2 separate regions of the Homo sapiens genome follow, and region 1 is linked to region 2. Evidence: fine-mapped expression QTL. A gene starts in region 2. The other region holds a variant in brackets. All regions are shown on one strand. Distances are between the middles of the regions. Region 1 overlaps LOC101928362 (a long non-coding RNA gene). Region 2 holds the start of MGST1 (microsomal glutathione S-transferase 1).

Evidence for each region. PIP is the estimated chance that this variant, and not a neighbour inherited with it, causes the effect.
Region 1: its variant is the best candidate, but not a certain one, in a credible set for the expression of MGST1 in prefrontal cortex (CommonMind, PIP 0.52).

The regions. Positions count from the first base shown.
Region 1 is chr12:16,173,503-16,178,030 of GRCh38, forward strand. The region is part of intron 1 of LOC101928362 (a long non-coding RNA gene); the gene reads left to right. Among named protein-coding and RNA genes, the nearest start is that of SLC15A5, 100 kb to the right of the region's middle. The variant A/T (reference allele first, on the strand shown) is at 2,708.
Region 2 is chr12:16,345,890-16,349,889 of GRCh38, forward strand. MGST1 (microsomal glutathione S-transferase 1) reads left to right here and starts at 1,756. Exons shown (of 4, transcript NM_020300.5): 1 at 1,756-1,821. RefSeq lists enhancers at 846-1,775, 2,706-3,635.

The DNA.
Region 1 (4,528 bases), 170 kb before region 2:
GTGAGTACGAGGTATGTTGATGGCTGAGACAGTGGTGTGCTGACAACCTGGAAAGCCATGCTTTCCCTTAGAATCAGAACTTGCTTCAAATGCAGAAAGAAGGCCATGACATTTTAAGAAAAACAAATGGCCAAAGAGCCCTGTTAGAACCTTTCTTTTATATCACTTCGCCGTATTACTCAATCATTTACACTGGAAATAATAATGACACAGATGGAAAGAGAAAGAAAGAAAAACCCAGAGTTGCTTATCCTTTTAAGTCTTTCTTCACTCATTGATGAATGTAGAATAGAGGGTGTTGGCAGAATGTGTATCAAGAAGTGAAATAACATCACAGTTGAGTTAGTTTTTGAAGCTTTTCCACTATTCTGGTAAAAATGATACATATATGTACAGATGCATGTATGAGCTATGAAATATAAATTCAGCAATTTTAGTGTTCTACACATGACTTAAGAGCTCTTGTATTTACATTTAAAACTGATTTTGCACAATATACGGATAAATGGTAAAACTCATGCTGATAACTAAAAATTTTAGTTTTTCTTTGTGTAGAAACACTTAAGTAGCAAAACCAAAATCATCCCTAAACTCCAGAAAACCCGCACAACAAAACCACCATTACAAGTAAGAGTGAGACCACAGGAGGAAAAAAGAGCCTTATATTTCAGTATCGTGAGTCACACTTTTCTCCTACTTTTTGAAGTTGGAGAACCACATTTTCATTTTTCACTGGATTCTGCAAATTTTACAGCCAGCTCTGCAAGTGACTTGTATTGATTTGCTAGGGCTGCCATAAAAAAATACCACAGAATAGGTGACTTAAACAACAGAAATTTACTTTTTCACACTTCTGGAGGCTTAGAAGTCCAAGGTTTAAAGTTCTGGCAGGGTTGGTTTCCTCCGAGGCCTCTGTCATTGGTTTGCAGGTGGTTACCTTCTTTCTACCTCTTACCATGGTCGTTTCTCTGCGCATGCGTGCCTCTGATGTCTCTCTGGGTGTCCAAGTTTCCTCTTCTTTAAGCACCCCAGTCAGTTGGCATTGGGGCCCCTCCATATAACCTCATTTAACTTTAATTATCTCCTTAAAGACCTGATCTCCAAATATAATCACATACTTGTGAATGAGGGAGGATTAGGGCTTCAGCCTATAAATTTGAGAGGGGGGCACAATTCAGCCCGAATGGTACTTTTCAATGGCATGAACCAATAAATTCCATTTTTCTTTACACCAGGTTAGATTGTATTTTTTTTAATCCCTTAGAACTTAAAAGAGCCCAATTGCCACAGCTTCATAGTGTAACCCCTCGCATCTACTCCTCAGTATTCTGCTACCCGTGGACAGGATATTTTTAACCCTCTTAGGCAACTCAGAAATGAGGAAAAGAGATAGCTAAAGTTGTCAGGAAATGGAACAAGATGCTTGTGAAAATGTATATTCACTCTTTATTCATGATATAATAATAATAAAATTATTAGTGCCAGTGAAGAGATCAGCCCCTTTATTTTCACAGGTTATAGAATTAGGACATGGAGGAGTAAAATAAAATCTGCATAGCTCGGGAAACTAATATCAGAACCCATAGCCCCTGATGGCTATGTCAGGATTCTTTTCATTCTACTTCATGGTACTTACCTGAATTTTTCATAGTACAGAGATGAGGGATATACTTTTAATCTCTGAGTTGGTTCACCTGTTTGATAAAAACTCCTCTGAAGTTGTTTTTGTGTATTTTTTAAACAAAAGGCCATTTAAATAAAATATGCACCAATCTACCAAGATCCTCTGTTAAGTCCAAACTAGCAAAATAAGTGGTGTAGAAGAGTGTTTTTTCATTTAAACAATTTTAAAAAATAGAAGTGATGCAAATAAATGCATGTCTCTTTCTGGAAAAATCACATATGCTACAATCTAAACTGAGATCTTTGTAGATGTGACTTCAATTATAGTATGTATGAGGTAATCAATAATTATAGAAGGCAGCTTCTCAAAGGCAACAACGGACCTCAGAACCAGGATTGGGATTTGAAATTTAGAATACCTTTTTTCCATCCCCTAATGTTAATTCCACATTCAGGGCATAAACTTTTAGTCTGAAGAACTAACAGGGAGCAGAAATAACACTATTTTACTTGCGCAAATTTTTAAAGAGGAATCACGTACAGGGGGATGGATATTTTTTATTTATTGAATGTTCTCAGCATTTCTCATTGGTGTCTCTAAGCAGCAGAACTAAGATCAATAGGAAGGCATAAAGTTGCAAGATGGGAATGAAAAATGAGATTAAGAGTAATGCTTGTAAAAGTGCAAAGATACCTGCTTAAGAGACAGCAGGGGCTGCGTGACCCAGGCCCTCTTAAGCTGTCCTCTCTTCTTGCATGACAGTCCCAATGTTGCAGGCCCTTGGAAAAGGCTCCTTTCAAAGTGTGGAGAAATAGAAGGCAAAGTGCAGATAGAGACAGTGACAGAGAGCAGGAGACTTCAAGGGAAATAACCATGCAGTCGCAGATGAGATGTTTGCTGCTGCCCTAAATACACATGACTGTGATGTGGCTGTTTTTGAGTTGTTCCTTATTTTCCCACAAATGTACTAACAAATCCAAATGAGTGTTTTCATTCAGAATAGTCATCTTAACAGTACATGTATTGCAACACAGTAGCCATTGCTTAAATACCTTTGGGATCGCTTTTATTCTTTTAATATAT[A/T]CAGAGCTAATAAACATTTGTCAGTTGAGTTTTGGGAACTGCAAGAAGCCTACAAGTGCCAAGTTTGGTGAATAAAGCTATTATTTGAGTCCCTCCCTCCCTCCCTCCCTCCCTTCCTTCCTTCCTTCCTTCCTTCTTTCCTTCTGTCCACAATTGGTAATCAAAAATGGAGACTCAATATAAACTACTAGAATTTACCTTCTTGTATGGTTTATAAAATGATGCGGAAGGTGTAAGAAAGAGTGAAAAATGACAACATCATAAGTAGAGGCTCCCAAGGTAACTATTCTGAAGGTTCCAATATTCAGGAACATTTGGTTATGCTTGTAAAATACACACACACACACACACACACACACACACACACACAAAAGCACACATACCAGCTTGTGTACAGATTGCAGTGTTTTCAAGTATCTTTGTTGTGTAAAAAGATACCTGTGTAGCTTTATTTTATGTAGCTCTACTAAATACACATTCAGAGACTCTATTATTCCACAGTTATAAATACTACCAGCCAAGTGAATTCTGAGTTTGCTCTGTTTCTGATCTAAGCTCCATCAAGTCATTAATTTCTCCTTTTTCCTGGGGCTGATCTAAGCTGTGAGGTTTTCAGTCTCAATCAAGTGAAGAGGAGAGTTAGTATCTATCCTTGGTCATTACCTGTCCTGCACTGATCTCTCCTGAGATACACAATTCTTCCATTTGGTCCTCCACGCTGCTCCCTGCTGCCTTGCCCCTGTGTCATGACTACAAGCCCATTTGGGGTCACTTGTTCTCTCTCTTGCTCTCACTCCCACTCTCCTCTCTCTTTTAGAGCTAACTTCTGTTTCACAAAAATGTGGGAAAGAGGGAAGGATCAGTGTATCTCCCACAGCTTTTAGAGGTGCTGGAGACTTAGGGAACTCTTGGATCCTCTGCCCCAGACATTTCTTGAAGCCATTTGGCTCTATTGCTGCCTTGCTTTAGTGGTGTAGAAAAAACGACAGCAACCCTATAAAGGTATGCCTGGCACACAACAGGATCTCTCTGAATATTTATTGATTGATTGGCTGGCTGACTGAATGAATGCAAATGCTATTTCCCAGAGTTCCATAGGGTATATGTTTTCTCTTCTATTATGTTCTCCGAATAACGTAAGGATTCTATAGTCTTCTCTACTCTCATTGAAACTCATCCTGGATGAGGTGGAGAGAAGAGGATAAGGCCTCTTCACAGGGACCCTGCAAGAATAATTCTAGATCTCTGAGGAGTTTCTGTAGTCATGTAAGGAGGCTGCCAAGTGTCCCACCTCATTTGGTTAAATTATGCTCATCTTTTAGGTGTCAGATGAGACCACCTTAACTTTTCTTTAGACTGTGTGCTCCATGAGGAGTCTTTTCTGTTCTGTCCTCATCACCATTTTATTAGTAGGTATTGTGCTTGGCATATCAGGTTGTCAATATTTTTGTTTGTTTGTTTTTTGAGATGACCTCACCTGTTGCCCAGGCTAGAATGCAGTGGTGTGATCATAGCTCACTGCAGCCTTGAACTCCTGGGCTCAAGCAACCCTCCTGCTTCAGCCTCCTGAGTAGCTAGCAATACAGGCACACCAGTGTGTCTGGCTAATTTTTTATTTTTATTTTTGTACAGATAGGATCTTACTGTGCTGTCCAGGCTGGTCTCAAACTCCTGGCCTTAAGCAGTTCTCCTGCTTTAGCCTCCCATAGTGCTGGGATTATAGGTATGAGCCACCACACTCGATCGATATCTTTGAAATAATTAATGTGAATATGAATAATTGAACTCTTTGAGCTAGGCTTGGTATTTCTGAGTGTTACT
Region 2 (4,000 bases):
TGTTCGTGATTTAGTGATAGTAGGAACTCAGTATTTATTCATTGATCAATTAATAGTTTGAACACATTCTATATTTAGAGCATTAGATGAGTCAAGTGCTACTTTCTTTTTTAAAAAAATGTTAGAACCAGCTGGACGCAGTGGCTCACGCCTGTAATCCCAACACTTTGGGAGGCTGAGGCAGGTGGATCACGAGGTCAGGAGATCAAGACCATCCTGGCTAACACAGAGAAACCCCGTCTCTACTAAAAATACAAAAAATTAGCCAGGCGTGATGGCAGGTGCCTGTGATCCCAGCTACTTGGGATGCTGAGGCAGGATAACGGTGTGAACTCGGGAGGCGGAGCTTGCAGTGAGCTGAGATCGCGCCACTGCACTCCAGCCTGGGCTACACAGGCAGACTCCGTCTCAAAAAAAAAAAAAAAAAAATGTTAGAACCATTCAACTAGCATTCTGTAGACCAAATTATCTAAACAGTAGCTCTCCTCTTCCTTTTTCTGCCATGTTATCCATAAGATTTGGCCTGTATCACCTTATAATAAATGAAGAGAGTCTTAAATTCTTATAATACCAAACTCCTTTGGAGAGAATTCAGAATAGATTTATGTCATCTCAAATTCTATCCTATTCCAGTTAATGTTACAGACAGATTCTAGTATACTTTACAAAGATAGGTGAATAAGTAGAGTTTTGAAAAGATACAGACATAAAAGTGAAGAACAGATGCCTTCTGATGCTAGATTTTCCAAAACTCCTACTGTTATGCTTATATAGAAATCATTCTCAGACCTTCCTTGGATTAATTTCTGTTCCTAGAGCAAACTGGTAGTTATTTCTTTCTTTAATAGAACATGAACTTGTCCATCACATCCTAGAAAGTTAGTCCTAGGGATATCCTTTAAAGCCTAAAGGAGTAAATTAAGAGCAAAAAAAGGAAGTAGACCTTGCAACAGGTGGTGAGTGTCTGAGATATAGCACTAGGAGAGAAATAATATAGATTGAAAACAGAAATCCTTAAACATTTCTCATATAAACCCATGAAAGATAGATCCATAAATATTGTGGGGACTATGGGGACTAGGAAGCTTGGAAGTATCCCTAATCTAGATAGTGATGGTAGGCTAAATATCTACGGCTTCCGTAAACGTTCCTCTAAACCTCCCTGTAAAAAACACACTAAGCTGATTGTGTAATGAGCTGATCCAGTACAATTGCCTCCAATTTCATTCTGGACCCTGAACAGGAGGGGACATCGTGACAAAGCAAATTGTCTGGTATCATGAATTTGGAACACCGTAAGTGATCTTTACTGAGGGTTACATTCTGTCATTGTCAGCCTTTTAAGGAGGCCTTGCCACCAGCGCAGGGGAGGTGAAGTCTAAGGGAAGGTAATATTGTCAATGCCTGCTAATTAGTTCTACCCTGGAGATTTTAACTTTCTGCGAAGTTTTTAAAAACAACTTCCAAAACTCTGCTGATCCTGAAATGTTCGAGAATTCAGAGTTCCTAGACAATGGCTACTGTCCCCCTTCCCACTGATTAGGGGAGTTGGCATTTCAGGAACCAGAGTTTCTAAGGGCGCCAAATAGAAGGGCTCAAAGGGAATCAGCAGGCGATGGTTACTGTGGGCGGGTAAATCAGGTGATTTAGAGGAGGGGTTTGGCGAGGTTGGGGTCGGGCTTTAAACGTGGGAGGGCTAATTAACAGGAGATTAACTGGAGAGGGGCGGTGCCTGCGTCCGGCCCGCGCGGCCACAGTCCCTGCATTGCGCGCGACCCGGCGGCGGGACAGGCTTGCTGCTTCCTCCTCCTCGGCCTCACCGTGCGTACTGGGAGGGGAGAAGGGGACCGCATGCAAAGGGTGGCAGGCAGGGAGGGCCAGGGTGGGTGGCAGATGGAAGACTTGGGGGGGTCTCTGCCAGCTGGAAGTGCTTGGCTCCACTTAGCAGCTAAACTTAGCTTTTCAATCGATCGCTTTTGAAAGGGAATTGTATTTCTGTCCCCGTGCGGGTAAGTTTTCCCATTTCTCAAACTCCAGGAATGAAACGAGAGAGTCTTTTCATGCTTGAGTGATGATTTCCAAACTTAGCCTTTTCAAGTCAAAGTAACCTCCTGTTTGAAAGGGTCCCTTGAACTCTGGGGAAGGAGGAAAAGGCACGTGTAGTAATGGAGGAAATGCCTGTAGTTTGAACGACTGCTGTTCTCCCCAAGAGTGCAAAAGCCTGCGATGTCTCAGGTTTCATGGGCATAGTGGCCTTTATGCCTATTGTAAGGCAGGATTTGCTCTTCTGAGTTCACTTTGATAGGAGAAACATCAGCAAGTTTTAAAATAATACTAAATAATACTACTGCTAATAATGCTAGCTATCGAAACAAGAGGATGTGGGTTAGATGATAATATTTTTGTGTGATATTATAGCCAGTGACAAGAGAGCTAAGGGTGAGCCCCTTGGGACGGTTCTCACCTGTGCCCCACTTCCCCAGTCTGGAGGAGGAAGCCATGTGGAAGGAGAAAAGGAGAAGGGAACTCTCTTTTTCGGGAATTAAGGTGTCATATATTGCTCTAGCTGGCTTGGGACAGAGGAGAGAGGAGTGCATGTAAATCTTCTAGTCTCTCTGCTTCTCTTGAAATGTGGCAGTCTGAGCTCCACGTTTATATTCCCCTATTTCTTCTCCCTAATTTCTTACCCAGTGAGTGCTGAGTGGGTGCCCGCAAGCATTGCTGTATAGCACCCAGGCCTCCAGTGAGCAATCCTTAAAGCCCAGTTTTCCTGGGGTCCCAGCCTGCTGTGAGTCCCAGCCTACACCTACCTTTTGCATATGCTTTTCTTGGCCTTAGGATAGTACTGGACTTTGTTGTCCTCTGCTGTTTCCAAAATAAGAGGGCTATGTGTGCGATTATCTTTGGTAATTAAAAAAAAAAAAAAAAAAAAGGCAAATCAGTCCAAATTTGGATATTACCCTCTCTGGCAGACGAGTAAAATTTTTCTACCGCTTTGTTTTAGAGTGGTGTCTATGAATCCCTGAGATTGGAAAAGGAGGTCAGGTCAGCACAGAGAAAGGCCTTACCCCACCACTCTCCCGAGAGGCACCAGCATTTCACCTGCAGCCTCTGGGCTCTGAACCCCACTTTGCATGAGACCACATAGTGGGCTGAGTCTGCAGCCACCACGATGCCTTCAGGAAATGCTAGAATTCATCTAGAGTTCCAGATTAACGTATCCGCAACATGGCCACCGAATTATCTTTTTTCTTTATCTCATGTGTAGTGTTTGTTAGTTTTAGAAGGTACAAAATTGCAGAGTCATGGCCCTGGGGATGCGTGCCCAGATTATTCATGTGTTTCACAATATTGATGCAGAAAGGCTGGCCACCTCATCCTGAGAAGAGAACTTTGCTCATTTTGGCCAAAAGCCTGTAAAGGGAAAGGGCGTTCCTCAACTGAGAAGTGAAGATTCTTCTCTGCTAGATAGTACGGGGGTTTGGGGGGAGGGGTAGAAAACAGGAATGAGATTTGACAAGGAAAGGCCTCCAGAAGACCAGAGCTGTTGAGAATTCTTAGCCTTGATGGTGGGTAGCCCAGAGGTAAACACTTGAGAAAACTAAGTTGCAGTCTTGGTCTCTCCACTGTGAATTTGGGTCATATTACTCACTACTTTTCTGGGCCTTAATTTCCTTACATACTAAAGGTAGAAAAAAATATTATTTGCTCTACCTCAGGATTTTTCGGGTCAAGCGAGATAAAATATGCAAAAGCTTTTTGAAAATTCTAAAATCCTCAGTGCCTAGAACAGCGCCAAAGTCGGAAGTTTTTTATTTACCAAACACACAGCATTTAACAGGTCCCAGAGCTTCTTTTTTTTTTTTTTTTTTTGAGACGGGGTCTCGCACTGTCACCCAGGCTGGAGTGCAGTGGCACGATCTCAGCTCACTGCAAACTCCGCTTCCCGGGTTCACGCCATTCTCCTGCCTCAGCCTCCCGAGTAGCTGGGACTACAGGC